Regions from separate parts of the Homo sapiens genome. Here region 2 is linked to region 1. The links come from fine-mapping of genetic effects on gene expression. Tissue or cell type: whole blood. Region 1 holds a variant in brackets; the other region holds the start of a gene. All regions are shown on one strand. Distances are from middle to middle.

The links. PIP is the estimated chance that this variant, and not a neighbour inherited with it, causes the effect.
Region 2: PDZD8 starts here. The variant in region 1 is fine-mapped to the expression of PDZD8 in whole blood (INTERVAL, PIP above 0.99).

What each region holds. Positions count from the first base shown.
Region 1 is chr10:117,387,265-117,403,489 of GRCh38, reverse strand. No RefSeq gene overlaps it. Among named protein-coding and RNA genes, the nearest start is that of PDZD8, 20 kb to the right of the region's middle. The variant T/C (reference allele first, on the strand shown) is at 7,507.
Region 2 is chr10:117,366,808-117,383,032 of GRCh38, reverse strand. PDZD8 (PDZ domain containing 8) reads left to right here and starts at 7,593. Exons shown (of 5, transcript NM_173791.5): 1 at 7,593-8,677. The coding sequence starts at 7,806. RefSeq lists an enhancer at 7,153-7,272 and silencers at 7,503-7,822, 7,923-8,102.

The DNA of each region.
Region 1 (16,225 bases):
GAATTGCATATTAAATGTTATAGTGAGAAATCATCCTCGGTCAAAAAGACAGTCTTGCTCCTCCTCTTAAGAAAGGGATCCACCCCCCAACCCCACCCCCATAATCTTTTGAGGCAATTGAAGAACATGGAAGAAAAAAGTTCTGTCCAGCTAAGCAATTTTGTGGAAAGAACAAAACACTCTTCAGTCTAGGGATGCTCTTAATTATGCTCATGCTGATGGAGATGACTATAAAAAGCCATGTAGTCCAAAATGGGCAGGATCGATGTTCTTAGGTCAGCTCTTGGTCTGTCTTCAGTCCAGAGATATTTTGGTCTGAGCCAGGAAGTGAGACAGTAAGGGTAAAAACATCTGAAACACACGAGCATCTTCCACCTATTCATCCAAAGGTATCAGAGGATATAAAGAGCCCAAGTGTGGTTCGAGAAAAGTGGCTTTTGCACAAATGAGAACAAAATTTGCTGGGGGTTGAATGAGAGTCTAGGTCAATTTCCATAGAGTTGCAGGAAAAGAGGAGTTTTGACAGTCATGGGTTTATTTAATCAATGCATTCAAGCATTTGAGAAAATTCAGGTCCTGAAATAAACTTATTTTAAGTAGGTATGTATAAAGCCCAACAAGACTGTTAATAAACCAATACCTATCCACAAATCCAATAATGACCAAAGCTCCTCCTCAGTTTGTAAAAGAAAAACACGCCCGCAGATGTGCCTTGCAGGGTTAACAGTTGTAAAATTTGAGTGTGTTCTCCTTTTTCTTGTTTTGTTTTTTTCTTTGTTCTGTTTTGTGAAGGGTTTTTCTCTGTCATCCAGGCTGTAGTGCCGTAGTACCATCTTGGCTCACTTCAACCTCTGCTTCCTGAGTGAAAGAAGCAATCCTCCTGCCTCAGCCTCCCAAGAGTGTGCTCTTCTACCCACAGGAGTTCATATATACCAAATGTATCCAATTCATTCACTTAACACACTTTGAATTCCTGGACCTGGAGTTATAGAGACAGGTAAGATTATAGTCCTTGCCCTCAAGGAGCACAATCTAGTTGGAGTGACAGGCATATTAGCAAATTTAAGGAAATGGTAGAGTGACAGAGGCAAGGGTAGGAATATGTACTGAGAACAGTGAGGTCCAAAGGAAGCGATGTTCAGAATGCCTGGGGAGAGGACAGAACATATTCAATAATAAAGAAGGGGCTGGGCGTGGTGGCTCATGCCTGTAATCCCAGCACTTTGCGAGGCCAAGGCAGATGGTTCACCTGAGGTCAGGAGTTTGAGACCAGCTTGACTAATATGGTGAAACCCTGTCTCTACTAAAAAATACAAAAATTAGCCAGGTGTGGTGGCATATATCTGTAATCCCAGCTACTTGTGAGGCTGAGACAGGAGAATTGCTTGAACCCGGGAGGCAAAGGTTGCAGTGAGCTGAGATCATGCCACTGCACTCCACCCTGGGTGACAGAGCCATACTCTATCTCAAAAAAAAAAAAAAAAGCATGGTACTGCTAGAAGTATGAACGTAGAGATCAACAGAATAGAATTGAAAGTTCAGAAACAAAACCTCACATTTATGGCCAATTGATTTTTGAAATGATACCAAGACAATTCAATAAAGAAAAGCAGTCTTTTCAACAAATGGTTCTGGGACAACTGAACACCCACATGCAAAAGAATAAAGTTGAACCCCTCTCTCACACCATACACAAAAATTAATTTGAAATGTGTTACAGATCTAAATGTATGAGTTAAAACTATAAAATTCCTAGAAGAAAACAGAAGAAAATCTTTGGTCACCTGGGGTTAGGTAATGGCTTCTTAGGTATGACACCAAAAGCACAAGCAACAGAAGAAAAAAAAATAGATAAATTTGAATTTATCAAGATTAAAAACATTGGCCAGACGCAGTGGTTCACACCTGTAATCCCAGTACTTTGTGAGGCCAAGGCAGGCAGATAACTTGAGCCCAGGAGTTTGAGACCAGTCTGGGCAACATGGTGAAATCCCATCTCCACAAAAATACAAAACATTAGCTGGGCACGGTGGCACACACCTGTAGTCCCAGCTACTTGGGAGGCTGAGGTGGGAGCATCACTTGAGCCTGGGAGGTCAAGGCTACAGTGAGCTATGATCATGCCACTTCATTCCAGCCTGGGCAACAGAGTGAGACCCTATGTCATAAAAATAAATAAATAAATAAATAAAACATTTATGCCTCAAAGAACACTATCAAAGTAGGAAATGAAAACTTACAAAATTGGAGAAAATATTTGCAAACATATATCTGAGAAAGAAATTGTACCTAGAATTTATAAGGAACCCGTGCAACTTAGTAATAAAAAGATAAATAGCCCAATTTAAAAATGAGCAAAAGATTTGAAAACACGTTTATCCAAAGAAAAGCATCATTAGACTTTAAGGAAATACACATCAAAACCACAATCGAATACTACCTCACATCCATTAGGATGGTTAAAATCAAGACAAGTGATGGCAAACAAATGGAGAAATTGGAATCCTCATACTCTCTGGTGGGAAAGTAAAATGGTACAGCTACTTTGAAAAAAAGTTTAGCAGTTTCTCAAAAGGTTAAACATAGAGCTATCATAAAGTCATATGATCCAGGGTTTATACTTCTTGGTATATACCCAAGAGAAATGAAAACCTACATCCACACTAAAAATTGTACACAAATATTCATAGCAGTATTATTCATAATAGACAAAAAGTTGAAGCAACCTAAACACTTAACAGATGAAAGCATAAACAAATTATATATCCATATAATGGAATATTATTTGACCATAAGAAAAATCAAGTACTGATAACTGCTACAACCAGATGAACCTTGAAACATTATGCAAAGTGCAAGAAGCCAGTAACAAAAGACCATATATTGTTTGACTCCTTTCACATGAAATATTCAAATTAAGTAAATCCTTAGAGACAGAAGGTGATTTGTGGTTGCTGGGTTGGGAAGAAATAGGGCGTGATTGCTGATGGATATGGGTTTCTCTTTAGGGCGTTGAAAATGTTCTAAAGTTAGATTGTAGTAATGGTGACACGACTCTGAATATATTAAAAACTAATGAACTGTACACTTTAAATGGGTGAATTTTAAGGTATGTGAAAAATATCTCAGTAAAGCTATTTAAAATCTCATTAATCTTGGTTTTTTGTTTTGTTTTGTTTGGAGACAGTTGCTTGCTGTGTTGCCCAGGCTGGAGTGCAGTGGTGTGATCTCGGCTCACTGAAACCTCCACCTCCTGGGTTCAAGCAATTCTCATGCCTCAGCCTCCCCAGTAGCTGGGACTACAGATACACATCACCACTCCCGGCTAATTTTTTTTTTTTTTTTTTTTTTTTGTGTGTGTATTTCAGTAGAGGCAGTGTTTCATCATGTTGCCCAGGATACTGGTCTCTAACTCCTGAGCTCAGGCAATCTGCCCACCTTGGCCTCCCAAAGTGCTAGGATTACAGGTGTGAGCCACCATGTCCAGCCCTAAAATCTCATTAATCATAAAGATACTGAAAAATCATAGAGATACTGTCAATATTTTTGTAACACTTCAACATGTTTTCCCATCTTATGACTCAAGGCCCTGAAGGCACTTTTTTTTTTAAACATACAGTAACCTTGCAAAGATCATTGGTCTTCAAAAGATGAAGTAAGTCAACATTTTGCAATTAGAGGGAAGAGGTAGTCCATGGTTCAGTGGTCAGGTTTTTACCCAACAGGAAAGGTAGGCCTGCAAATGTTGCTTTACACTTTGTAACTGAAAATTTAACACACGCTTATTAAATGTTTACATGGTGCTAAAAAGACTTATTTGTCTTTTGGGGGAAACTGAAGGGTGCACAGAAGAAAGATGGTCAGCTAGGGGTCCCACGGAATTTTTCTTTGCTAATGTTGACTATCTGATTCCTTTGGATGTATGGTGGAAGAGAGCAAAGGGCTGGTATGCCATGGTGGTTACACAGTCACAATCTGGACGTGGCTGGCTTGGAATACTGCCCCTGCCACTTAGCAGCTGTATGACCGTGTGCAAGCCAGTTAGCCTCTCTGTGCCTCCATTTCCTTCTCTATAAAATGAGAATTCTACACTTCCTTCAGTTTTTATCGGAGGGCTTAGGCTGTTGTATTGTGCTCATAAATGGTACCTTTATGTGTAGACATTTTATGAGCAGTATATCTTGATGATTTCTTTCATGACTTAGAAAAACAAAAGTGTTGGCATTTTCTGAAGATCAGGATCTTATCCTTTTCTATTAGTTGTTTCATTCTGATATGTTTATTATTAAGTTATTTGTCAAAGTACTCTCCTGAAACTCTGCTATTAGGTAATTAAGAATTAAGACACTTAGGCCAGGCATGGTGGCTCACACCTGTAATCCCAGCACTTTGGGAGGCCAAGGCGGGCAGATCACCTGAAATTGGGAGTTCGAGACCAGCCTGGCTAACATCGAGAAACCCCATCTCTACTAAAAATACTAAATCAGCTGGGCATGGTGCCGTGCGCCTGTAATCCCAGCTACATGGGAGGCTGAGGCAGGAGAATTGCTTGAACCCGGGAAGCAGAGATTGCGGTGAGCCGAGATCACGCCATTGCATTCCAGCCTAGGCAACAAGAGCAAAACTCCATCTCAAAAAAAAAAAAGAATTAAGACACTTGATTGCTATGTATTTTCTTAACCAATGTGACTCTACTTTTCCTTAGCAAAAGTGTACAGAGTGCAGGCTCAGAATGAGATGCCCAGCTGCTGAACCTCATTCTTCTGATGTGTGGCGGGCAGAAAGGGCCAATGTAGGCAAGAAGTCTCTCAGTTCAAAACCACCTTCTAAGGCCCCCTTCATCCCAGGGCTTCTTTGGGGACTACGCAGAAGTGCTTATTTGCAATGCAAATACCCCAGATGACCTATCAATCAGTCAATTATCCAGGGTATTCCTTTCCATATTGCCCTCAGACCTGGGAAAGAGAAGGGTGACCCCATAATATCACACACACACTGATATGGTTTGGCTCTGTGTCCCCACCCAAATCGCAGGCCAAATTGTAATCCCCACATGTTGGAGGAGGGGTCTGGTGGGAGGTGATTGGATCATGGGGGCAGACTTCCCCCTTGCTGTTCTCATGATAGTATATGAGTTCTCATGAGATCTTGTTGCTTTAAAAGTGTGTAGCGCTTCCCCTTTATTCTTTCTGTCTCCTGCTAGGCCATGGTAACACATGCTTGTTTCCGCTTCACCTTCCGCTATGATGGTAAGTTCCTGAGGCCTTCCAGCCATGCTTCCTGTACAGCCTGCAGAACTGTGAGTCAATTAGACCTCTTGGTAGTTCCTTATAGAAGCATGAGAACAGACTAATACACACACATACACACTTCTTAAAGAACATGTGTGTTCCTTTGTCACATGGGACCTGGTGCTCAGCACTGGCATATCACTACCCCTAATCCTAAACATCTGCTCCTGGCACCAACGCTGCTCAAGCCCTAGGGAACACTTTTCCATATTTCTTACCTTTTATCCTCAAAACAAAGGCTACCTGTCCTGAAGGTCATAAAGGTTTTTGGGTTGCTGCTGCCAACATCAGAGATGGACACAGCTTCAGAGGGCAGAGAGCATTTTAGTGGTAGGGACCATTAGGAAGAGAAAAAGCAAATTAATTAACTTGTCAATTTCTTCCTCCCAGAGAGCATGAATAAAACAGATTTTTGTTTCGCATAGTATCATTCCCTGTCATGCTGAGCTTTTCTTTTCATTTTATTTCTTTCATTTGTGGTTCCTAAACTCTTCATGAATTACACGAATCACATAATAAAATGTCACCATGTGGTTAGGCTGTAGTAGAACCATCACGTATCAACTATCCATAACCCAATGTCATGATTGACATCTTGAAGATATGATTTGTAATTTTAGGCATGAAATAAGTGCATGTAGTACTGATTATTTGTATTGGCAACTAAGTTAAAACGGTGAATGCTAGAATACTGAATAGTTTATTTTTGTAAAAGTATTTATTATGATTTAACTCCACTGTTAAAATTTTAAACAAAAAATGTAACTTTACTGAAATAATTTCATCTATAATTTTTACACTCATTAATTTATAATTTCTACTTTGCCTTTTTTTTTTTTTTTTTTTTTTTTGAGACGGAGTCTCGCTCTGTTGCTCAGGCTGAAGTGCAATCTCACGATCTCGGCTCACTGCAACTTCCGCCTCCTGGGTTCAAGAGATTCTCCTGCCTCAGCTTCCCAATTAGCTGGGATTACAGGCACCTGCCACCATGCCTGGCTAATTTTTGTATTTTTAGTAGAGCCAGGGTTTCACCATGCTGGCCAGGCTGGTTTTGGACTCTTGACATCAGGTGAACCATCGCCCGCCTCAGCCTCCCAAAGTGCTGGGATTACAGGCATGAGCCACCTCGCCTAACCCTTTTTTTTTTTTTGGAAATGGAGTCTCACTCTGTAGCCAGGCTGGAATGCAGTGGCACGATCTTGGCTCACTGCAACCTCCGCCTCCTGGGTTCAAGTGATTCTCCTGCCTCAGGCTCCTGAGTAGCTGCAACTACAGGCACACGCCACCACGCCCAGCTAATTTTTGTATTTTTAGTAGTGGCAGGGTTTCGCCATGTTGGCCAGAATGGTCTCAATCTCTTGAGATTCGCCCACCTCAGCCTCCCAAAGTGCTAGGATTACAGGCATGAGCCACCATGCCCGACCCTCTACTTTGCCTTTTAATGTAAATATTTTTCATGCTTTAAAAATTTTTTTCAAAAATATTCAACTTTAACTATTACATTTACTTTCATTTTACATTTTTGATGGAAATATATTAAAATTTGATACTTTTTGAATATAATTTTATGTTTTAATCTTTTGGATCATATCAATGGAATGTAAATTATTTGCATACTTTAATTGCAATTAGATAATTAGTTTTTTTCTTGCTGTGAAAGAAAAAAAATTTATGAAATATGTAATGACTCATGATATATGTCTTTATTTTATCACTCATTCAAATATTTCTGGGCCATCAATAGCACGTACACAGTAATACCTGAATTCAGTTATTCTTGATATTTTGTAGACTTTCAGTCAGATAAAAACTATAGTTTTCCAACTTAAAAAGAAAATTTCCATTATGAAGTCGTATTTGTCAATGTAGGGGGAGAAAAAATGTATTTTGCAGCTTGATTTATAATTTTCTATTTTGTTATTATTATTTTTTTTAATTTTTTTTTTTAGAGACAGAGTCTCACTGTTACCCAGGCTGCAGTGCAGTGGTGTGCAATCATAGCAGCCTCAAACTTCTGGGCCCAAGCAATCCTCCTACTTCAGTGTCCCAAGTAACTAAAACTACAGGCATGAGCCAACAGGCCCAGCTAATTTTTGTTGTTGTTGTTGTTGTTTTAATAGAGATAGGGTTCCTATGTTGCCAAGGCTGGCCTCAAGCTCCTTAGCTCAAGCAATCCTCCTGCCTCAGTCTCCCAAATAGCTGGGACTACAACGCA[T/C]GCCACTTAGTTATAATTTTAAATATTTAGACCATTTGTACTCTAGCCCTGGCCCCACATATGTTGAAGATGAGCCTGACTGCTATAATCAGATGATCAGATAGAGTTTTTTAAAAATTTAACTAATAATAGCTAACTTATTGACACTAAATATGTGCCAGGCCCTGTGTTAAGTACTTTCTACATATTATGCCATTAAATCCTCCCAATAACCCTATGTCATTATTCCCACTTTATTTATTTATTTATTTTTAGCTTTTATTTTAGGTTCTGGGGTATATGTGCAGGTTTGTTATACAGGTAAATTGCATGTCACAGGGGTTTGGTGTACAGATTATTTCATCACCCAGGTAGCATATTGCCCAGGGAATAAGCATAGGTAGTTTTTTTATCCTCACCTTGCTCCCACCCTCCACCCTCAAGTAGGCTGTGTTGTCTATTGTTACCTTCATTGTGTCCATGTGTACTCAATCTTTATCTCCCACTTGTGATAGTTTATCTCCCACATGTGAGTACATATGGTATTTGGTTTTCTGTTCCTGCACTAATTCGCATAGGATAATGACCTCCAGCTCCATGATCTTAATCTATTTTATGACTATGTAGTATTCCATGGCATATATGTACCACATTTTCTTTATCCAGTCTACTACCATTGATGGGCATTTAGGTTGATTCCATGTCTTTGCCATTGTGAATAGTGTTGTGATGAACATACATATGCCTGTGCCTTTGTGGTAGAACAATTTCTATCCCTTTGGGTACACACCCAATAATGGGATTGCTGAGTTGAATGGTAGTTCTAAGTTCTTTGAGAAATCGCCAAACTGCTTTCCACAATGGCTGAACTAATTTTCATTCCCATCAGCAGTGTATAAACGTTTCCTTTTCTCTACAACCTCACCAGCATCTGTTATTTTTTTGACTTTTTAGTAATTGCCATTCTGACGGGTATGAGATGGTATCTCACTGTGGTTTTGATTTGCATTTCTCTAATGATTGGTGATGTTGAGCATTTTTAATATGCTTATTGGTTACATGTATCTCTTCTTTGGAGAAGTGTCAGTTCATATCCTTTGCCCATTTTTTAATGGTATCCCCACTTTATGGAGAGGAACCAGAAACCTGGAGAGTTTCCATGACTGGCTCGTGGTCACACAACCCCTAAGTCCTGGAGCTGGGATTTGATCCCAGGAGGCCTGAGTAACTTTGGGAAAAGGCACTTTGAGAGAGGTGACCTTGATGGGCATCCCTGTGGGGAACTTGGACACATGATCGCAACTGGGAGGGTCCAGGTGCTGGGAGGAAGAGTGGCAAGGAGAAGGCCTCCTGATTCCAGTCTGACTAGAGATCTGATGTCACCCAAGCACCAAAAGCTACCAAGTGTCTGAATGGGTAGGGAGAAGTGCCAGTTTTTACCAATTCTTCATGTTCTTCTGATTTCAGCAATGGATGAGTAAGAAAAATATTCCATTTACTTTTATTACTTTGAATTCTCATTCTCAGTCATTGAACAGGTAAATTCAAAGGGCTGATTCCTTCTTTCCTTCTTTATCCCTCCCTCCATCTTTCTTTCTCCTTCTTTCTCTCCCTGTTTTCTTTTCTCCCTCTCTTTCTTTCTTCAATCACATATATATTGAGCTCCTATTATGTACTAAGCACTCTGCTAGGTAATAAAAAAAAGACAGTGCCTCATCATTATGGGGTTCCCTACGTAGTAGGAAGACAGAGGGCAAACCAACATGAAAATCCTAAAAATTACAACCATGGTGAATGCCATACAGGAGAGATGGAGAATGCTAGGAAGGTGTGTATGTGCTAGGGGAATCTGGCCCAGTCTCAGAGTGTCAGGGAAGACTTCCCTGGAAACCTGTCATTGGATCCAGGTGGTAAGTAAGGTTAACCATACACAGATTTGGGAGAATAGCCAAGCTGAGAAAATAGCTTGGATAGAGGCCCCATGAGGAGAGGGAGCCTATGGGTGGGAATACGAAGATTCTGAGAGAAGGCCAGTGAGGCTGGATGTGTGTTTGGATGAAAGGTTCCGACCATTCCTGACCAGGGGTCAACAAATTATGGCCCATGGGCTGAATTCAGCTACAATGATAGAGCTGAGTAGTTGCAACAGAGACATTATGACCCACAAAGGTGGGAAGAAATTCAGAATGCTGTCTAGAAAATGTATTGTCTGCCTTTTATAGAAAAAGTTTGCAGCCAGGGGCAGTGTTTCACACCTGCAATCCTAGCACTTTGCGAGGCCAAGGTGGGAAGATCATTTGAGCTCAGGAGTTTGAGACCAGCCTGGGCAATATAGAGAGACTTCATCTCTCCTGAAAAATTAAAAATAAAAAAAAATTAACTGGGCTTGTTGGCATGAGCCTGTAGTCCCAGCTACTCAGGAGGCTGAGATGGGAGGATGACTTGAGCCTGGGAGGTCGAGGCTGCAGCGAGCTGTGATCACGCCACTGCACTCCAAACCTGAGCAACAGAATGAGATCCTGTCTCAAAAAAAATTTAAAAAGAAGATAAAAGAAAAAAAAAAGTAGATTTTTTTTTTTTAATAAAAAGTTTTCAGACCTCTGAACCAGATGGTGGAGGTCAGACCTTGCAGGCCCATTGATGATTGTGATCTTTGTCTTAACAGCTACGGGAAACCATCAGAGTGTTTTAAGACTGAAGGAGACAGGGAATAACAGGATCAGATTTCATTAGGCACATTCAGGAGTTGAATATATACTTACATTGTAAGGATATCCCAGGCCAGGCCAGTCCTTCCAAAGATCCCTATAAGGGAATTGTGGCATTAATCTCCTCATAAATGGGTTCTAAGTCTTTCTTGCCTGTGGCAAGTGGTCACAGTCAGTTTCTTCCTACCTAAGCCCCTATTTTGGTCAAAATCAATTGGGAGCAAATAACAGAAGCACAATATAAACCAGCTATACAGCAGGAAGAAAATGTGTTGGTTCACATAGCTGGGAAGGGCAGTAGGTGACTCAGAGAAGCCAAAAAAGAGCAACAGAAAAAAGAGTCCATAGCCCTTGGCTCAGGAACTCACCGCATAGAGAACCATCTCTCCATTTGCCTCTCATCTTTGCTTAATCCTGCTTGGCTTCCTGCACAAACAGACATGCTCCACTGAGTGACCTCAGGTTCATGTTCTCCCAGTTTAGGCACCCCAGCAGAAAGAGAGTGTCTCTTTCCCTAAGCCTGTACATTCATCTTGGGGTTAGATTGTGAGTGGCCCTGCTCAGTCACATGCCCACCTTCTCTAGAACAATCATTGTTGTCAGAGGGATCAGGTGCTATAAATTGGCCAGACCTGGGACATGTGCCTATCCTTAAGGCCAAGGGGTGGGCCTGGAATTGAGAACTTCAGAACAGCCTAGAAGGGAAGAGGGGAGTTTTCAAAAGAAAGGAATGTTGGCCCAGCGCGGTGGCTCACACCTGTAATCCCAGCACGTTGGGAGGCCGAGCCGGGCAGATCACTTGAGGTCAGGAGTTTGAGACCAGTCTGGCCAACAAGGTGAAACCCCATCTCTACCAAAAATTGCAAAACTTGGTGGCGGCCGCCTGTAGTCCCGGTTACTCGGGAGACTGAAGCAAGAGAATCGCTTGAACCCAGGAGGTGGAGGCTGCAGTGGGCCAAGATCGTGCCACTGCACTCCAGCCTGGGTGACAGAGTGAGACTCTATCTCAAAAAAGAAAGGAAGGAAGGGAAGGGAAGGGGAAAAGAAAAGAGAAGAGAAGAAAAAAGAAAAGAAAAGCAAAGTTAGGCAGACAAAAGAATCTAAGCAACCCATGCCTGTGGTATCTGCCAGGCTGGTATGCACAAGCTTTACAGGAGAAGCCAGTTCCGCTGTCCTGGCAACAGCTGACCAGACCAGAGATCAGTCTCGGGAAGAGCTTACAACACACATGTGCCAGACACGAGGGTGGCTGATCAGCTCTGAGGTGACTCCACACAAAGGTCCAGCGGGGGGCCCTCCTCTGAGTGGCAGCAAGTTAACCAATCAAACCTTCTCACTTGCAAATATAAATGATAAGTCAGCAAAAGTGGAGCTTGATGTTGGCAGCAATACTCAGAATCTCATCCAGGTTTCTATGTAGCTCACTCTCCATCCTGTTCCTGTATAAACAGGAACCCACCCAGTAAACCTCCTTGGCTGAAGGAAAGCCAGGACTGTCTTTTCCTCCTAAAGAATTTGCCTGTATTGATCAGTACAATCTGATGCCCTGGGAATTTCTTCCCCTGCCATTTACAGGGAAAATGTTTCCATGCTGAATTTCATACAGCAGGAAATGAGCTACTCTTATGGCAAGGAATGATATGATTACAACAGGGATTTCCTCATTGGGAGGGAATTCAAGCACTTCAGTAGGTGGCTGGGGAGATTTAACCACAGACTTTTTGGGGAGGAGGCTGAAGTGAAAGCTAAGTACAATAAACATGGTAACCCACTGTGGCAGGGCTGGAGTCCTGGGTTCAAGTCCCTGCTGGGGGACCCTGGGCAAGTCACCTCTCCTCTGTCCTCTGGAAGTGAAGTTTTAAAATCATTCATCCATTCTACAAAGATGTGTGGCAAGGGGCGGTGTGGTGCAGAGTGAATGCAGCAGAAAGCCGGAGACACAACTGCAGACAGAGGTAACGGGGACCCAGACATTTGGAGCCTTGGACTTCCCTATGAAGACTTTGGTTTTTACATCGCATGAGATGGGGAAGTGTGTTAGTTTCTTGCAGTTGCTATAACAAATGACCACAAACTTAGTGGCTTAAAACAAACAAGTTTATTATCTTATAATTCTGGAGGTCTAAAGTCAGACCTCTAGCAGGTCTGACTGGACTGAAATCAAGATGTTGGCAGAGCTGCCTCACTTTCTGGAAGTTCTAGGGGATAATCCATTTTCTTGCCTTTCTAGCCCTTAGAGCTGTCTGCATTCCTTACTCTTAGTTCCCTTCCATCTTCAAAGCCAGCAGTGGCAGTTTGAATCGTTCTCCCATTGCATCAGTCTGACTTTCTCTTTTGTCTCTCTCTTCCACTTTTAAGGACCTTTGTGATTACATTGGGTCCAGTTGGATAATTCAGAATAATCTCTTTATCTGAAGATCAGGTGATTAGCAACCTTAATTCCTCCCACAACAGTAACGCCCCTTTGCCACGTAACGTAATATATCCACAGGTTTTGGGGATTAGGATGTGGACAACTTTGGGGGCCATTATTCTGGGCCCCCCCACAAGAAACCACTGGTACGTTTCAAACAGTTGAGTGGCATGATCCGACTTGTGGTTTACCATGGTCACTGTGGTGTCTGTGTTGAAACAGACATTAGGGTAGCAAAGGCCAGAGAGACCTTTAAGTAGAGAGGCCAACTAAGAGACCACTCCAATAATCAGGCCAAATATGGTGCTTGAACCATGATAGTGAATGCGGTGAGAAGTGGTGAAACTCTGAATATATTTTGAGGGTAAAACCAATAGGATGTGTTGCAAGTGTGAATGCAGATAAGAGAGAAAGGAGTCAAGGATAGCACAAGGCTTTTGGCCTGAGCAACTGGAATGACAGAGGTACCATTGATAAATATGGCGGGAAATGCCCAAGGAACTCTCATGGGATGGATATTCGCTCAGTCTTACACACAGTAAGTCATCTCACACCAAGGTGGAGATGGCTGGTAGGCTGTTGGATATATGGGTTTCCTAGAGGAGCTCAGAGTGAGTAAATGCATTTGGAAGCATACACATATGAATAGCATTTAAAGGTAGGAGGCTGGATGAGATCACCTAAGGACTGAATGAAAGTAGAGATGAGGTGAATATGCTCTTGGGCCCCAAAAGTTACACTGATCTCCACACAGTAGATTTAGATCCACTGGCAGTCTCAAGGACTTGCCATCTCCAAGCATGTTGCTGCTGCAGCAATGTTATTCTCTTCCAGAGTTACTTACCTTCCCTGGCTTTGCCAGAGGAGCAGAGCCAGCAGTGATCCCTCCTCTCCCAGCATGATAGGACGTTCTGGTGTCAGTGTTGGCTCCCCTCTACAAAGCCTCTTCCTTCAAACAAGTGGTCTTAGGGCTTCAGGAGAAGGTGGCTCTTTCTCACCAAAGTGGAGAGTAGGTCATGTAAATTCATTCACTTAATAAATACCAGTTGAGTACTTACTATGGGCGAGGCCCTGTGCTGAGTGCTGGGAAACTGTGGTTTACAAGACACACATTGTACAAGTGATGATAGTAAAGTGTGGTGAATACTGTGTCAGGAGTGTATTTGGCTGCTAGTAACAGAGACCTGTAATAGTAGTTTGACAGCTTAAGGGGAATTTTTTTATGTAAAAAAAAAGTTCCAAGGTGGGTATTGCAAAGTTGAGTTCAGCTTCAGTGTCATCAGTGTTCTGAGCTTATTCTGTCTTTCTGCTCAACCATCTTCAGTGTGTGGCATCTATCCTCAAGGTTACCACATGATTATAAAGTGGCCACTGAAGTTCCAGCCATCACATCTGAATTCCAGGCCAGGGGAGGGAGAGGGAAGTACAAAAGAGATATGGAGATAATAAATCAAAATCCTTTGTTGAGCTCCCACCCAAAAATTTTGCTTATATCTCATTGGCCACTCTTATCTGCAAGGCTGGTTGGGAAATGTCATTTTTAAAATCTGAACAATTTGCTGTTCCCAAATTCTTCTTTGAAATGAGTGAATGGATATGGACGAAGCAAGTAGCAGTCTCTGCCATAAGCACCAGGATGAGGGAACATATATTGGATGTTATATGAGGATATAGCAAGGGATAAGCCTTGGTTAGGGCCAGGGGAGTCTCCTAAAGAGGAAGATTTCAGTCTACACTTTAAGGGTAGGGTTACCTGCAAAGAGAAGAGGCAGAGAGTTTCAGGTGGAAGAAGCAGCATGTGCAAAGGCCTGGAGATACCAGAAAGAAGTCAGCACAGGAGGAAGCACAAGAGCTCAGGCAGGCTGGAGCAAACTCTGTGACGGGGAAAGGGGAAAGTGAAGGGATGGATTGTGAAAGGCCTGAAGGATGTTACTGGGAACTAGTACTTCATCCTTAAGCCTAAGGGCAGCTGTAGAAAAACTTTAAGGAGGAATCAGCTTAATGTGTCCTGAGGGCAGAGTAGAGAATAAAGTAAGGCGAGGAAAGCCGAAGGTAGGTAGACCAATTAGGAGGCAATGGCAGGATTAAAGCAAGAGATAACAATGGCCCAGACTGGGGTATTTCAGGGGATGGAGAGAAGTGGACTGGCTTGCACAACAATTTACGAGGAATATAAATGCTGATTTAAGGCCTCGGCTATCTAAAAACGGTTTGATTATTGTTGTCCCAGGAAGGGGACCCATCAAAATGACCTTCTGCGAAGCCTCACAACTCCAGGGTTTAGTTCAGGTTCTGAATTGTAGTGAAGGAGAATGGAAATTAGCAAACAGCCTCAAATGAAAGATAAGCAGTTTTGAGACTGGTAAGTAACAGTATTAAAGTGTAAAGCAGATAGAATTTACAGCTATTGTTAGACTCTCCTGAAAGTGTTATTAGAGTCAGTTTTTCACTTCCATTGAGAAAGAGAAAATAACCAATATTTTGTGAAGCGAGCATGGAAAAAGTATGAGGACAAGATGAAAAAGAGACACCAGGAGTTAGGACCCCAGGATTATGATCCGGGCTGTGATACTGTCTTGCTGGGTAGCTTGAGAGAGGCCACAGCATCTCTCTGGGTTTCCTTGCCAAGATCATCCCCATTCTCTGGGTTAGTGTCCATGTGCAGGTGATAGGTCTGCTCCTCCTACATTGTCTTTGATAAGGGAACCCTCAACTTCCTACTCAGTTGCAAAATCTCAGTTGCCTTTGAATCCTTCTTCTCTATCCACTTTATTCCCAGCCAAATTCTATTGATTCTTCCTCTAAAATGTTTCTTATATCCAACCTACTGCCACTGCCTTAATCTGGGCTCTGTGAAAATAAGTAATTTGAAATCCGAGCTGTTGGAACTTTAAGTTATTTTGAGCCTTAAAGGAATGTGATTATGGGGTCTGAGCCATGTGACAGGCAGCTGTAAGGTAGGCAGCTGTAACCTTCGTTTTTCTGATTATAGATTAGCCTTCTTCCTTACCTATGTTATTTCATAAAATGTTGCAAATGACCCAAGAGTGCCAGGGAATACCTCTTCCCTCTTCTCTGTTGATCATCATTATAGATTAACTTCCTTCTTCCCTCTCACACAAAGATTTTATGATTATCTCATTGTCTTGAGATGGAATGTTAAATATACTCTTTTAAATTGGAGAGGAAATAAAAACAAGCCATATGGAAAAGAAAACAAACTGTAAGTAACCAAATTTTTGCAACTCATAAACCAGCCTTATGTACAAAATGTTGTAATCCTACTAATTTCTTTGTTTTCTACCTGTATAAGCAAGACTTTAACTTGTAACTTTGGAGCACTGATCCCATTCCTTTGGAGTCTGTGTTACCTGAATGGCTATTCTCAGCTTTGTTCTTGAATAGACTCTTTAAAACTGGATTCACATCCTTTCTGTTATTTCAGGTTGATAGCCCTGATTAACTCTTACCTGGATTCTAGCAAAGATTCCACATGAGTCTCATTCCCCTTCAATACAGACTTCCCTTGCAGTCTACTACCAGTTATATCATAAAACAGATCTTACTTTTCCATCCATTCACCCATCCATCCACCCATACGTATATACATTTCTCCATC
Region 2 (16,225 bases), 20 kb after region 1:
AACTTGGATCCCCAGGTCAGAGTCTTTCTTCAGACATTAAGCAAATATTTATTGAGTCTTTCATTGGCCCTTAGTGACCACTTCCACTCATAAGCGATGTGTCAATAATGCTGAGTCTCAAAAGGGAGGAGTCAGAAGGACCAAAAACAATCTTGGAAAAGAAGAACAAAGTTGGAGGGCTCATGCTTCCTGATCTCAAAACCTACTACAAAGCTATAGGGTAATTAAGACTGTGTGGTACTAGCAGAAGGCTGGACACATAGGTCAATGGAATAGAATTTAGAGTCCAGGAAAAAACCCTCACACTTACAGTCCATTGATTTTTAGACAAAGGTGCCAAGACATTTAAATGGGGAAAGAATAGTCTTCAACAAGTGTGCAAGACAACGTGACACCCACATGCAAAAGATAGATTTGGACCCCACCTCATACCAGACACCAAAATTAACTCAAAATAGGTCAAAGATCACAATGTAAGGGCTAAAATGATAAAGTTCTTAGAAGAAAACATAGGCATAAATCCTCATGACCTTAAGTTAGACAATGGTTTCTTAGATACAACACCAAAAGTGCAGCAAAATAATAATAATAATGAATTGGTCATCAAAATTAAAAATCTTTCTGCTTTATTGGTCCTCACAATTAAAAACCTTTTTGCTTCAAAGGACACCATCAAGAAAGTGAAAACCCACAGAATGGAAAAAAATTTTGCAAATCATATATCTGATAAGGGATTTGTAGTTAAAACATATAAAGAACTCTTACAACTCTGTAAAGAAGAAGATAAATAACCCAATTAAAAAATAGGCAAAGTGGGCACAATGTTATGCACCTATGGTCCCAGCTGCTCAGGAGGCTGAGATGGGAGAACTGCTTGAGCCCAGGAGGCAGAGGCTGCAGTAAGTCAAGATCACGCCACTACACTCCAGCCTGGGCAACAGAGCAAGACCCTGCCTCAAAAAAAAAATAGGCAAAGGATTTAAATAAACATTTCTCCAAAGAAATACAAACAGCTAATAAACACATGAAAAGATGCTCAACATCATTAGCCATCAGGGAAATGCAAATATTAACCATAATGGGATACCACTTTATACCTACTAGGCTGACTATTATTAAAAAGACAGATACCAACAACTGTTGGTGAGGATGTGGAAAAATCAAAACCCACATAAACTACAAGACTACAAAACTCACATAAACTACAAAACCCACATAAACTCACATAAACCAACAAAACCCACATAGACTATGGGAAAATAGTTTAACAGTTCCTTAAAACTTAAGAATTACTGTTACAATAGCATCCAGCATTTAATCCCTAGGTATATACCCAAGAGAAATGAAAACATATGTCCACACAAAATCTTGTAAGCAAATGTCCATAGCAACATTATTCATAATAGCCAAAAAGTGAGAACCCATATGTCCACCAATTAATGAATAAACAAATTGTGTTATATTCATACAATTTAATATTATTCAGTTATAAAAAACGAGGTACTAATACATGTTACAACGTAGATGAATCTTGAAAACATTATGCTAAGTGAAAGAACAGTCACAGAATATGATATATCGTATGATTCCATTTACGTGGAATGTCAGAATAGGCAAATCCATGGAGATGGAACGTAAATTCAGCTGCCTAGGGCTGAGGGGGTTTGGAGGAAGGAAAAGGGCATGACTCTAATGCATATAAGGTTTCCTTTTGAGGTGGGGAAAATGTTCTAAAACTGATTGTAGCAATGGGTGCACAACTCTGTAAATGTACTAAAAACCACTGAACTGTACACTTTAAATGGGTGTATATATGAATTATATATCAATAAAGCTGTTATTTTAAAAAGCAAAAAAGCAAAAAGATAGGAGTCAGGGTCTTGATCTCCTTAATCCCAGGCGGTCCCTTGGCTCTTATGCATATGAGGGTATGGGCCAGCATGGCCTACTTTCTTTCCCCAGAAGGGTAAGAAGCAACTTGCCTATTCTTTTCACTCTTAAAGGTACCACCCAGGTAGGGTGGCCAACTTGTCCTAGTTTTCCTAGGACTTCTAATTTTAGCATTGAAAGTCTTGCTCCCAGAAACCCTCTCATTCTGGGGCAAACTGGAACAGTTGGTCACCCTATACCCAGAGATTTCTTCACAGATTTTCTCCAAGGCAACTTCACATCACTAGCTCTAGACACAGAAGTGGCAGGCAACTTTAGAGTGGTAATTTCTCTTGCTAACAACCAAAAAGGGGAGAATGTGTTTAAAGTTCGACCTGACTGGATACTCTTCATGGTGTCAATGAGTAGAAGGATTTCAAGAAAGAAGGAATGGCTCGTATTGTCAGATGTTCCTCAGAACTCTGATAAGAACCAAAAACATCTATTGGTTGTGGCCATATAGAAGTCGCTGGCCTTTGGCAAGATGGGGAGGTGTTCAGGCAGAAGTCAGATTATGGAGGGTTAAGGAGTAAATGGAAGGGAAGTAAGCAATCAGACAGAATTGGGTACTCTTTTTAAACAGCTTGACTCTGTGGGCAAGAAAGAGTGGAAGTCGGAAGGCTTAAGGGAAGATGGTCTCTGGATTTGTTTCGTTTTCATTTTTTAAGATGTGGAGAGTGAATCTGGTTTATGTGTTGAGGGAGAGGAGATTGACCCTGGAGGGGAGTGGAATCCATGGCACAAGTAGGGGGATTATCAGGGTTACCCTTGGACAAAAAAGTTTTTGCTTTGTTTTTTGGTTGTTTTTTGCCACAGAAGAGAAGCATGAAAACATGGGAGTGTCATGCAGGTGAGCTTGGACCAGGGAAGCAAGCAGCGGAGGAAAGCCCAGCCTAAGGGCCTCTTTTTTTCTCCCTGAAGTGGGAGGAGGGTCCTCCCCTGAGCATGATGAAAGAGCTGAGCCTGGTCAAGGTTTGATGGCATTGTTATGGGACATGGAAGAAGATGCTGGTAATGGAGAAAAAATGGATAAATGTGGTAGTGGAGAAAAATGTCTGGGTTTCCTTGAGGGCCTTAATAAGAACGAAGACCATAAATTTATAATGTAGAGGGGAGGAGGTAGATAGTTGGATTCATTTAGGGTTGAGGTTTTGCAGGTGGAGATGGAAGGAAAAGTGTTAATGCCATTCTCTAGCTTAAAGACCTTTGAAGACTTCACAAAAACTGCAAAATAGAATAAAAACTTGCCCTGACATTTAATCTCTCCATAATTTAGTTTGTGTCTACTTTATTATGCTACCTCCATCTCCCTTCTCTCCTTGATGCACCAACCTATTCGTACTACCTTCTTCCAGTCATCCTGGTCTCAATTTCCCCAAACTGGCGGGTTTCCATCTTCTGAGTTTTTGTCTCCTTCTGATTAGAATGCCCTTCTAATCATTAAATGCCAATGCAAATTCCATTTGCCCCAAAAGCCTCCCACCTTCCCCAGCAAGAATTAATCTCTTATCCCCTATTGAGCTAGTATTGCCCATCATGTCTTCTCAATCCTCTCCCAGTCCTTGAAGAAGTTGCCCCACCCACCAGCAGCCCAGAAGAGGCAAGCTCCTTGGTCATAAATTATTGGAGTAGCACAGCCAATTGGAGATTTCTCTCCCAGGATTTGAGATTGAGCTTGCAGGCTACCTTAGCCATCAGAGACATAGGACCCTCTAGATCTGGATAGAGAGCTGGTGCCTCCCAAAGTGCCTGTGTGCTGAGGGTAATGGGGAAGTAGAAACCAAGAGCCTTCTGGAGTAAAATGGCACAGACCTGCAGGGAGATGCAGAAATAAGATACTGGGTAGGGGTGGGGGCAGAGGAAATGAGAGTGAGAGACAGTTTTCTTACTCTAGGATTTCTATGAACATCTTGCAGCTGAGTTCCTGGAGATATTCCAGCATCCTTAACGTGAATCCAATTTTAGTTGTAAGTTAGCCTGAGGTAGTTGCTGTTCCTTGCAATCAATTGTCACTGCCCCTGAACCAGAAGGCTCTGCTCCCATAGTACCTTGCATGTGCCTCTATTAGAGCACTATCTCCTATCATCAGAGTTATGCAGATGTGTGTCTGCTTCCACCTGGGGCGCAGCGCCCCTGTTCATTCAGTATCCCTGGAGCCTAGTACTTGTTGGATGCTCAAAAAATAGTTGTGGAATTTGAATTCTCCCAGTTCACAAAATGGTTTGTTGATGTATCATTTGTTAGGCAAACCTTATAAACTCTATGTTTCCCACCATATTTCACTATATTTGCATTATTTTACATCTTTCAAAAAATCAAATTTGCTTTCATGCTACTCACAAACTTTGCACATTTACGTGGTTTGGCTTTCTCATTATTTTTCGCGGTCACCAGGAATGATTCATAGTCAAGCAGTGGTCCATGCATCCCTCTAGTTGGTGAGAATGTCTTATATGCAACCCATCTTCCAGTATTCAACTGACTTCGACCTTGAAATGGATATTTCCATGAAGGCTGTTGGGGCAGCTTAATTTCAATGATGTCATTTAAAACACATTAAAAAGTCAGCAGGGAGGCTAAGCACAACTGCTTCCTTTAAAAACCTATTCAGAATCATCGATCTTCAGAGCTGGGGCCAGTGGTTCTCAGGCTTTTGAGTTTCTATGAACCAGCATTAATATAAGAAAAAAAGGGAGGGGTTGCTGAATTTATCCTTTTCCAGAAAATAGCATTAAAACAAATTCGTCTCTATTAACATAGTATAATTTCATAAAATAAAGGGCATGCTAACACCAATATTATCCAGAGCATTATCTCCTAACTTATCAAACACAGTCAAGTGTGGCTTAACAACAGACATAAGTTGTGAATCTTTAGGCAGTTTCATCATTGTGCGAACATCAGAGTGTCCTTACACAAACCTAGATGGGAAACCCTACTACATACCTGGGCCATATTGTATAGCCTATTGTTCCTAGGCTACAAATCTATACAGCACGTTGCTGTACTGAATACTGTAGGCAACCATAACACAATGGTATCTGTGTATCAAAACATCTCTAAACACAGAAATGGCATAGTAAAAATACGGTACTATAATCCTATGGGGCCACCATCCTATAGGCAGTCTGTCGTTAACAAGAACATCCTTCTATGGTGCATGACTGCATATTTGACTTTACAAAAACTCATGATATTTTGATTTCTAAATAATGTTTGAAATATTTAAATATTTCTAAATAACATGCTTAACACTGTGCTTGGCACATGGTCAGTTCTCTGTATTATTATTATTAGTGTTTAATCAATGTTGGTCATGTTTCACACAAGGGAGAATACTTTTTTCTTCCCAAAAGGTTTGCTGAGCTCTTTCATGGATTTGAAGTGTGTCCCTAAGGGGTCAAGTTTTGCTGGGGAATGCAATGACTCTGACTCTGTAAAACAAACTGAGAAGATTTAAGATTCTCACAGGTATTCTGAGGAGCGCAGAAGTGAGAGGAGAAGAGAAAAGAAAGGAGTCTGCAAGATGAAGACTGAGGACTCATTCCCATGAAGACCACAAACTTTCATTGTTGAGGAGGGAGGTGGGTGAAGAATATTTTGCAACTCGGGATGGATCAATATACAGTTTGAGGGTTTTATATTTCAGGAATGTGAATAACTTCTTTCATGCCACCCTACTTCCAGCTTCTGTAACATTTATAATATGCAATGTGCATGAATGTTATGAATAGGTTTACGGTGGAAATCATAGAAGGGTCTACATTTCTCATTTGAGTTGAAACAGTGTAGATCCCAGAGAGCAGCCCAGAAGCAGAGGCCAGGAACCAAAGGGGACCAGAGAACAGAAGTTGCCAAGATCTCCGAAAAATCTCGGCCATGGTTTGAGCATGGTTCCTCAGCAGACACCTATCTTATGTCTTCATAGTAATGAAAGCCATTCTGGTTTCGTATCTGGGCATGATTCGGTAAGGCATGATAAGCCTGGTTCCGAAGTTCTGTACCTGTCCCAGCTGGGTCAGGTCTATTTTTGTGGTAGAATCACCTACAGTTAAGAGAATCCTTGGCTTGGAGGTTTTCTTCTTTTTTTTTTGAGACAGGGTCTTGCACTGTCGCCCAGGCTGGGGTGCAATGGCGTGATCTTGGCTCACTGCAACCCCCGCCTACCGGGTTCAAGTGATTCTCCTGCCTCAGCCTCCTGAGTAGCTGGGACTACAGGCGCGCACCACCACGACCGGTTAATTTTTGTATTTTTAGTATAGACGGGTTTCACCATGTTGGCCAGGCTGGTCTCGATCTCTTGACCTCGTGATCTGCCCGCCTCGGCCTCCCAAAGTGCTGGGATTACAGGCGTGAGCCACCACGCCCGGCCGGCTTGAAGGTTTTCAAGGGCTAGAGAGGAGCCCTGCCCTGGCTCCTTAGGTACAGCCAGAATCGGCCTTTAAGGTATGGGATATCTGACTCCTGCAGGACTGGAACTCCACGTGCTTGGAGGGATAAGCATTTATGATGTAACCACTAAGTAGTCAGAGGGCAGGAGGAGTAACGCTGTTGCTGGGCAACCTGGCTTAGCTTCGTGGCTTTGGTTAAGGTGCTACTCTATGCAAAATTCCTTGCCGTCTTCCCTAATCCGCCTCCCCAATTCTCCCTTCCTGAACATTAGGGAACCCACTGGCCTGCTTACAACTGAAGCAGTTTCTGTGTTAGGGCAGAGAGTAGTGATCAAGACATTAGGGTTTAGTGTTAGATAAACCAGGCTCCACTCTGCGGCCCCACGCAACCTCCCCACGCTCTCTGCACCAGTGTTGGCATCTGTCAAGTGGGTGGGGGCTAACAGTGAATAACTGCCTCATAGATGGACTACCGGCTTAACCAGAGACTGACAGCGGGTCGCATATTAATCTTCCAATCACTTGGCAAACTCGTTTCACTATGCATCTCTCCTCCTGGCTGTTCTTTCAACTTCCTCCTCCCTGAAATTTCGAAGATCCACCTCGGTGGGAAAGTCATTCCGCGTGGCGCGCCCTTTCCCTGCGTCCCTCCTTCCCAGGGCCCACCCTCCGCGGACGCAGAGCGTCTGCCGGGGGGACGGCAGGTCCGCGATGGCTGCCTCTGAGGCAGTCGGTCCCCTCTCGCCGTGGGCTTGGGAAGCGTCCGAAAGGCCCGCTCGGATCGTCTGCGGTGCTGCCCGCAGGGAAAGCGCCGCTGCCAGCCGGGCTGTCACGGGTGCGAGTGGAAGAAGCACACCGCAGGATGAGCGACGCCGCTGCAGAGGTAACCGCGGGGACTGCGGCCAGAGACGGGGGATGGGCGCAGCCGAGGATAACGGGATGGCCGGCATCCGGAACGCGTCAGGCCCGCTCCGCCGGACCGCCTTATCCTCCAGCCCGCGTCCCCAGCCGTCCTCCCAGATCCCGACCGCAGCTCCAGAAGTGACGGCCACGTGGGTGGCGGCGCGCGCCGCGGGGATTGGAATGTTGGCGTGGGGGGACGAGGTTGGAAGGGCCGCAGAGAAGTAAAGGAGGACCCGCGTCCGCGTGCCCGGGCGCCGACTGCTGGGCGACGCCGCCGGGAGCGAGCACGCCTCTGACGTCACGCGCTGCTCGTCCAATGAGTGGAGGCCTGAGGGAGGCGCCGGTCCCGGCCCCGCTGCCGCCGCCGCCACACCGGCCCTTCGGGAGCGTCTGAGGAGGCGCGGGCCGCTGCGGGCTCGGGCGCCGCAGCGCGCCGGCCCGAGCCCCTGGACGAGGCCCACGGAGCCGCTCGCCCCGACCCAGCCGCCCGATGTCCTCAAAATGGAGGCAGCGGGGGCGGCGGCGTGAAGAAAGCGGCGCTGTGGGCGCGGGAGTAGGGGCCCGGGCGGAGGCGGTGGCGGGATGGGGCTGCTGCTCATGATCCTGGCGTCGGCCGTGCTGGGTTCCTTCCTCACGCTCCTCGCCCAGTTCTTCCTGCTGTACCGCAGACAGCCCGAGCCGCCGGCGGACGAGGCCGCCCGCGCGGGCGAGGGCTTCCGCTACATCAAGCCAGTGCCGGGCCTGCTCCTAAGGGAGTACCTTTATGGCGGCGGCCGGGATGAGGAGCCCTCCGGAGCGGCCCCTGAGGGCGGCGCGACCCCCACCGCGGCCCCCGAGACCCCCGCCCCGCCGACGCGGGAGACTTGCTACTTCCTCAACGCCACCATCCTATTCCTGTTCCGGGAGTTGCGGGACACCGCGCTGACCCGCCGCTGGGTCACCAAGAAGATCAAGGTGGAGTTCGAGGAGCTGCTGCAGACCAAGACGGCCGGGCGCCTGCTGGAGGGGCTGAGCCTGCGGGACGTGTTCCTGGGCGAGACGGTGCCCTTCATCAAGACCATCCGGCTCGTGCGGCCAGTCGTGCCCTCGGCCACCGGGGAGCCCGATGGCCCTGAAGGGGAGGCGCTGCCCGCCGCCTGCCCCGAGGAGCTGGCCTTCGAGGCGGAGGTGGAGTACAACGGGGGCTTCCACCTGGCCATCGACGTGGACCTGGTCTTCGGCAAGTCCGCCTACTTGTTTGTCAAGCTGTCCCGCGTGGTGGGAAGGCTGCGCTTGGTCTTTACGCGCGTGCCCTTCACCCACTGGTTCTTCTCCTTCGTGGAAGACCCGCTGATCGACTTCGAGGTGCGCTCCCAGTTTGAAGGGCGGCCCATGCCCCAGCTCACCTCCATCATCGTCAACCAGCTCAAGAAGATCATCAAGCGCAAGCACACCCTACCGAATTACAAGATCAGGTGAGCTGGAGGTCGGGGAGGGGGCCTGGCTGCCGGGAACCCGGGCCTGGGCGGGACGCTGCGTGGATTGGGAAGGGCAAAGGCTCATTTCTGTCCTGGCGCCTGCTTCTGGGGCCTTCCCACCCTGGACAGGGCCCCAGATCAAGGCGAGTCGTGAACACTTGCTTTGCTTCCGAACGGCATTGATAGGAGCTAGAAACCTTTTCGCGTGTTCATGGGGACTCAGGGTGCTGTCAACGCGGGCAGAATCGTCTCCTTTTATAAGCAGCATATTGGAAATGGAAGGGAAGCCTACCCTAATCCCCAGGAGTCGCTTCTGGGACTGTTGAGAAACTCTCCCTCTATGTGGTTGCTGCATTGAGGGCAGCCGCGTCACTGGCTTTGCAGCATCCCCTTGGCCGCTTTGAGAAATTGTTCCTGGACACAGTACACGCGTGAAGAGTGTGCTTATAGCCCAGGTCTGTGCTAATTTGACATTGCAAGCCACTTTTGCTTTGATGGTTTGACACCTTTCAAGGCAGAGGTGGTAACTCTTGCAAAGGAATACTTTTGTGGGTTTTTTTTGTTTTTGTTTTTGAGACAGAGTCTTGCTGTGTCGCCCAGGCTGGAGTACAGTGGCGCGATCTCGGCTTACTGCAACCTCTGCCTCCCAGGTTCGAGCGATTCTCCTGCCTCAGCCTCCCAGGTAGCTGGGGTTACAGGCGTATGGCACCACGCCTTGCTGATTTTTTTTTTTTTTTTTTTTTTTTTTGTATTTTTTAGTAGAGACGGAGTTTCACCGTATTGGCCAGGCTGGTTTCGAACTCCTGACCTCAAGTAATCCGCCTGCCTCGGCCTCCCAAAGTGTTAGGATTACAGGAGTGAACCACCGCGCCCGGCCCGGGAATACTTTCCACAGCAGATGGGAAAGGAGTTGGGAGCCTGTACATAGTGTACTTTACATTTTGTATTAATGTCATTTGCCCATTTTGGGTAGATTGTAGAACACAGATCCAGACTCTGCCCATCAAGCATTTACTCTCTGTGACTGTAAGTTCTTCTCTCAAGGGACCTGAAGTCACTGTACAAATTGTATTTTAATGCTAGGTAGTGATTTTAATTTTGTTTAAGCCTTCCAGCATCTGATGGCTTAAATTTTGTGGTATACAGTTTTGAGTAGTATATAAATTTTGTTTTAATATTGTAGGAGTGGAAGGGGAAAGACTTTTTTAGGGCTAGAGGTGGAGTGGAAGGTGCTTTTTCTTTTGTAAAAAGCTGAATTTTTAACTTCTCTTTCGGTCCTCCTTTAATTTTGTATTCACTAAGACATTTGAGCCTTTAAAATTTTGCCCTTTATTATAAAATTATGTCAGTCTTGTATTTTACTTACCTAATTTTACTTGCCTTTTAGTGGAAGTTGCCTATTTCTGGATCACTAATTTTCTACCAGTGTCAATTTTCAGGAGCAAGATAATCCAGAAATATTTTGGGTTTGGAATGGATTATTGACTTCTGTATGTGGCAGATGTACCTTACCAATTATGTTTTGTTTAGGCTAACAGCGCAGAGTGACAGTTTAAAACTTGCGTGGCAGGAGAAATTTACTTTGTAATGGAAATATTTCCATAGATTTGCGGAGGGTGGTGAACTGGTTGTTCACTGTGTTCGATTTCTGGTTCTGTGAAGTAGAACATACTTTATGAAACCTACTTTTAACCTCTGGAATATCAGTGATTAAATTATAACTCGGTTCTAGTGTTTAAGCAGTGAGAGATGTTTATTTATAGCAGTGTGTTGCCAAAAAAGTCATGAGAAAAAGTTGCTAGAAATTTTGGTATTCTATCACAACTTCAATTATGATGTTTTCTGATAGCTTTCAGTTAATACAATTTGACTAGATTATTATTTTGAAATTTGTAGACTAGCCAATGACAGTGAGATTACATATCATTTTGAGATTTTTTTTTTAATGTAGACTTGGAATTTAGGTAAATCTGAAGTAAGTTATGAATAAGTTATGGAGGCATTGAGAAGTTTATTACTTTGAAAAACTATTATCTGTATCATTGAATAACAACCATTTAAAAGTATGGCAAAATTGCTTTTCACTTTGAAGGGATTTTTTTAAAAACAGCATGAATTTGGTTATGATATTTCAACTTCTAAATGTGAAGCATTAAATGATCATTTCCAGAAGTATGCACATCTGTGCTATTTATACTGGATGGCATCTCAATGCTCAGTCAGCTGCACAGAGCATATCACTCAATCTGTAAATGTTTATTGTACACCTGCTATATGCTTATCCTTGTTGTAGATGCTGGGATTTCAGTACTGAACAATACTTGAACTCAGCCCTCAGGAAGCTTAGAGTCTAGTGAGAATTGAATTAGCTATACTTAGTAATTTTTTTGTGTTTTTCGTTTGTTTGTTGAGACAGGATTTTGTTCGGTTGCCCAGAGCTGGAGTACAGTGTCAGGATCATGGCTCACGGCAGCTTCGACCTCCTGGGCTCAAGCAATCCTCCCATCTCAACCTTCCAAGTAGTTAGGACCACAGGTGTGTGCCACCACTCCTGGCTAATTAAAAAAAAATTTTTTTTGTAGAGATAGGTCTTGCTTTGTTGCCCAGGCTAGTCTGGAACTCCTGGGTTCATTCAAGTGATCCTCCCACCTCAGCCTCCCAAAGTGCTGGGATTACAGGTGTGAGCCACCTTGCCCGGCGCTTTGTAAGATTTAAACTAGAATGGGATTGATGGGGTTGAAGTAGCCAGGAAGCCGGTTTTAGCTTAGTAGAAGAAAATAGCAAGTATGACGATGAAAAGGGCTGCCTCAGCAAGTGATGACTTCTTGTCTGTGTAGCTGTTCTGTCCAGTGTTTTAAACTGGTGATGGGCCAGGTGCAGTGGTTCACGCCTGTGATCCCAGCACTTTGTAAGGCTGAGACAGGCGGATTACTTAAGGTCAGGAGTGTGAGACCAGCCTGGCCAACCTGATGAAACCCCGTCTCTAGTAAAAATGCAAAAATTAGCTGGGCGTGGTGGCGGGCGCCTGTAATCCCAGCTACTCTGGAGGCTGAGGCAGGAAAATGGCTTGTACCTGGGAGGCAGAGGTTGCAGCCAGCCGATATCGCACCACTGCACTCCAGCCTGGGCGACAGGGTGAGACTCCGTCTCCAAAATAAATAAGTAAATAAATAAATAAACAAACTGGTGATGATGTGGGACTGATTCAAGTTTCAGATAAGAATGAATTACAATACATCTAAGATATAGCATACTTCTCACAGGGAAAATTAAACTAGCTAGTGTTCATCTTTTTTTACAGATGAGGAAATGGAGCTCGGAGTAGTTAAATAACTTGCTTAAAGTCACACAGCTTTCAAGTGTTGAAACGCAGCTCTGATAAGGCCAGGCCACCTTTAAACACACACACACACACACACACACACACACACACAAACTATGTTGTTCTTAAGTGATTTATTTTTTAAAAGCATGCCATCGATATAGTAAATATGTGGGATATCTTTCCAAACTAACCTAGAACTCTTGAGAAGAGTATGACTATAAAGCTGATTTTTTTTTCTTAAATTGGTCATTTTAGAGGATCCTTTTAAAAGTAAATCATGAGGCTAAATCTTTGGGTACTGTCCCACGTGGCATTTCTTTTTTAATTGAGCAGAATTGTGTTTCCAAATAGAAGAGACAGGTTTCACCATGTTGGCCAGGCTGGTTTCGAACTCCTGACTTCAGGCAGTCTACCCACCTCGGCCTCCCAAAGTGCTGGGGTTACATGTGTGAGCCGCTGTGCCCGGCCTAGTTTATTCTTTTTTAGCTATCTAATCTTCTTAGTAGAGCTAAAGCAGTAAAGAGAATTGTATGGAGTCTTACGATCCTTTGGCATTTGTAATCATTACATAACAAATATCTTGCCAGTTAACGTTGTTATTACTTCTTTCCCCCTTCATTTATTTTGCCTTTTTCGTGTTGCTAAAGTGAATCAGCCTCTCTGGACTGCCAGTTCCTGATGTTTCACCTAGAGATGCTAAGTTGCTCAAGTGGTTGCTTTCTAAGGACCCAGCTGACTGACATTTCATTTTACCCAAGTTAACAAACTTACAATGTTTGTAAAACATTTTATTTTACAAAATGAATTATAATATGTAGACAATATGTTTACAGATTTATTCAAGTTAGGAATTTCATTCATCCACCTCAATGTTAATTGGTTTGATTTTTTAATTAAAATAGTATATTATAATAGCAATATATTTTTTTAAATGAACCTCAGAATCCATCCTCAAGGGAGAAAGATTACCACTAATGTTCTTTTACTACGTGGATAATTCATCTTAAACATGGAGTCTGAGTAATAGTGTCTGGGTGGGGAGCTCTGTTTAGGGTTTAGGAGTCAAATATTTGAGATTCTTACGGATGCTTGTGTTCCTGGAGTATTATTGTATATAGACAAGCAGATTCAGTTTGCAGGTACTTTTAATTTGGCCTGCACTGTTTAAAAAATGGAAAATTCTGTGTGTTTTGGATTTGTGGCTTCTGTTAGGAAAAATTGGAATATCTTGTAGCGCCAGTGCTGCATTTCTCAGAGCAACAACAGGATGGAGAGATGGACTGTAGTAGCAGCTTTGGGGTTGAAACTCGGTGTGTAAGCTCCTAGGTGGAGTTTATAGTCCCCCCTTATTTGCTGTGCTTAATTGATGGTACTTGCCTGGCTTGGAGTTATATGAATTTGAGACCCGTACTGGAGGAGTAAATAGGGAGCATTACTGTTGCTGATTAGTGAAAATGAGAAGACTTAATAGCTGGAGTGGAGAGGGAGAGTGATCATTTTTATCCTTCTTTTAATTACATTTTTGAAGGGACTGTCATAGAGCAATTTTATTTTTTAAAAGACATTGTTGGCCAGGTGCGGTGGCTCACTCCTGTAATCCCAGCACTTTGGGAGGGCAAGGCAGGCGGATCACTTGAGGTCAGGAGTTCGAGACCAGCCTGGTCAACATGGCGAAACCCCATCTTTACTAAAAATACAAAAATTAGCTGGGCATGGTGGCACATGCCTGTAATTCCAGTTACTCAGGAGGCTGAGGCAGGAGAATCGCTTGAACCCGAGAGGCAGAGATTGCTGCAAGCCGAGATCATACCACTGCACTCCAGCCTGGGCAACAGAGCAAGACTCTATCTCAAAAAGTAAAAATAAATAAATAAATAAATAAAAGACATTGTCAGGCCTGGCGTGGTGGCTGATGCCTGTAATCTCAGCACTTTGGGAGGCCAAGGTGGGTGGATCACTTGAGGTCAGGAGTTCGAGACCAGCCTGGCCAACATGGTGAAACCCCGCTTCTACTAAAAATGGCACGCACCTGCAGTCCCAGCTGCTGGGGATGCTGAGGCATGAGAATTGCTTGAACCCAGGAGGCGGAGGTTGCAGTGAGCCAAGATTGCGCCACTGTATTCCAGTCTGGGCAACAGAGTGAGACTGTCTCAAAAAAAAAAAAAAAAAAAAAAAACATTGTCAATATAATGTTGAATTTTAAAAAGTCACTCTGCCAGAAAAAAAAAAATGCCTTGAAATGCAATCCATTTTTCTACCATGTAGTGATGGTAAGTAGATAGTGTCTCCTTTTTGTTCGAGTTTGGTGGATAGTTTGCTTTAGTGGAATGGGTCATTAATAACTATGTAAGCATTTACTTCACTGATCTCCAAAAAGGGGGGCATCAACTTATTGACAGTATATTTGAATTTAATGAATTGAGTGATCCGTATCTCAAAATCTTTCAAAGTAAATTCACAGAAAACTGACAAAATCATTTGTAAAGTCAAGTGTAATATGTTGTATTTATTTACTTTTTCATACTTTTTTCCTTTCTATTACATTGGAAAATATTTTAAAATAGCTACTAAAATTCCTTGATGGTTATAATAGTGACAGTTTTACTTACTAATGTTGATAGGAAATCTAACCTTTAATATTTGGGGAGAATAGACAATGGCATTGTGCATTACTCTAGCTATGCTGGAATAATCTTGTAATAGCTAATTTTTAACCTGTTGTGCTTTTTCTTGTACTGTTGCTCATATCTCTATATCTCGTCATATCTCTGTATAAGTTGAATTGCAAGATCATTGTCTTAGAGATGAATAATTATGTCATTTAAAAAATAGTCATTTATCTTCAGTAAGTGCTTAGTGCATACTACCTAGTGTTGCGGTGGGTATAGTAAACGTGATAAAAATGGTTATAAACTAGTTCATGCTATTATAGGGTTAGTCTTTCTAGGGAAAACAAAGAACACATAAAGCTTATTTTAGTGGCATTGGAAATATTTAAGCCCTTCAGTTTTGTGAGAAACTGGAACAGGAGAGATCAATATCTCTGCTCTGCTAAGGCAAACACCTGATTACTGTGGTACCGTATGTAATGCATTGTGACCTTAGCTTTTTTTTTTTTCCTCTCTCGTTGCCCAGGCTGGAGTGCAGGTGCATGATCTCGGCTCACTGCAACCTCCGCCTCCCAGGTTCAAGCAGTTCTCCTGCCTCAGCCTCCCACAGGCGTGTGCCACAATGCCCAGCTAATTTTTTTATTTTTAGTAGAGATGGGGTTTTGCCATGTTGGGCAGGCTGGTCTTGAACTTCTGACTTCAGGTGCTCTGTCTGCCTCGGCCTCCCAAAGTGCTGGGATTACAGGCATGAGCCACCACATTAGCTTTCTTAGCACACCTAAGTGTACTCCACCTAAATACCCAGTTTAGTGCTGATTTTACTTCTTGCACATTGGATTTCCTCCAGCTGCTTTGAATTATTTTAATTTCAGCTTTTAAAACACTTTAGATGGAGAATAATGTATTGATACATTACATCTTTGCTCTAGAAATTTGATTTATTCATTGAGGGGAGAATAGTCATTTTGAGGAGGCTATAATTTTTGTTTGTTTGTTTGTTTGTTTGTTTTGAGACGGAGTCTCACTCTTGCCCAGGCTGGAGTGCGGTGGCGCTATATTGGCTCACTGCAACCTCCACCTCCCGGGTTCAAGCAGTTCTCCTGCCTCAGCCTCCCAAGTAGCTAAGATTGTAGGCGTATGCCACCACACCCGGCTAATTTTCACATATTTAGTACAGACAGGGTTTCACCATGTTGGCCAGGCTGGTCTCCAACTCCTGGATTCTAGTGATCCCCCCGCCTCAGCCTCCCAAAATGCTGGGATTACAGGTGTGATTCACACCCTGCCGGGAGGCTATAAATTCAAATCAGTAATGTACAAGTATATTGGCTATCCCAAAAAGCCACAGTTTCTTCCTGGAAATAGCCAAAGCAGATCATTATAAAGTAGATTGTGTTGAAGGAGCATGCCTGATCAAATACTAAACGTTGACTTACAAGTATTACTAACAATCTATCATATGAGCAGGGTGGGGCTAATAAAACACTGTTTGCTAAGTATTCATTAGGCACTGTGTGGGCATTTCCATGCAGTTGCAATCTCAATAGTTAAAACTCCTATGTGGGAGAGGTTGGTATCTCAGTTTTACAGATGTGGAAATATGCGATTTAC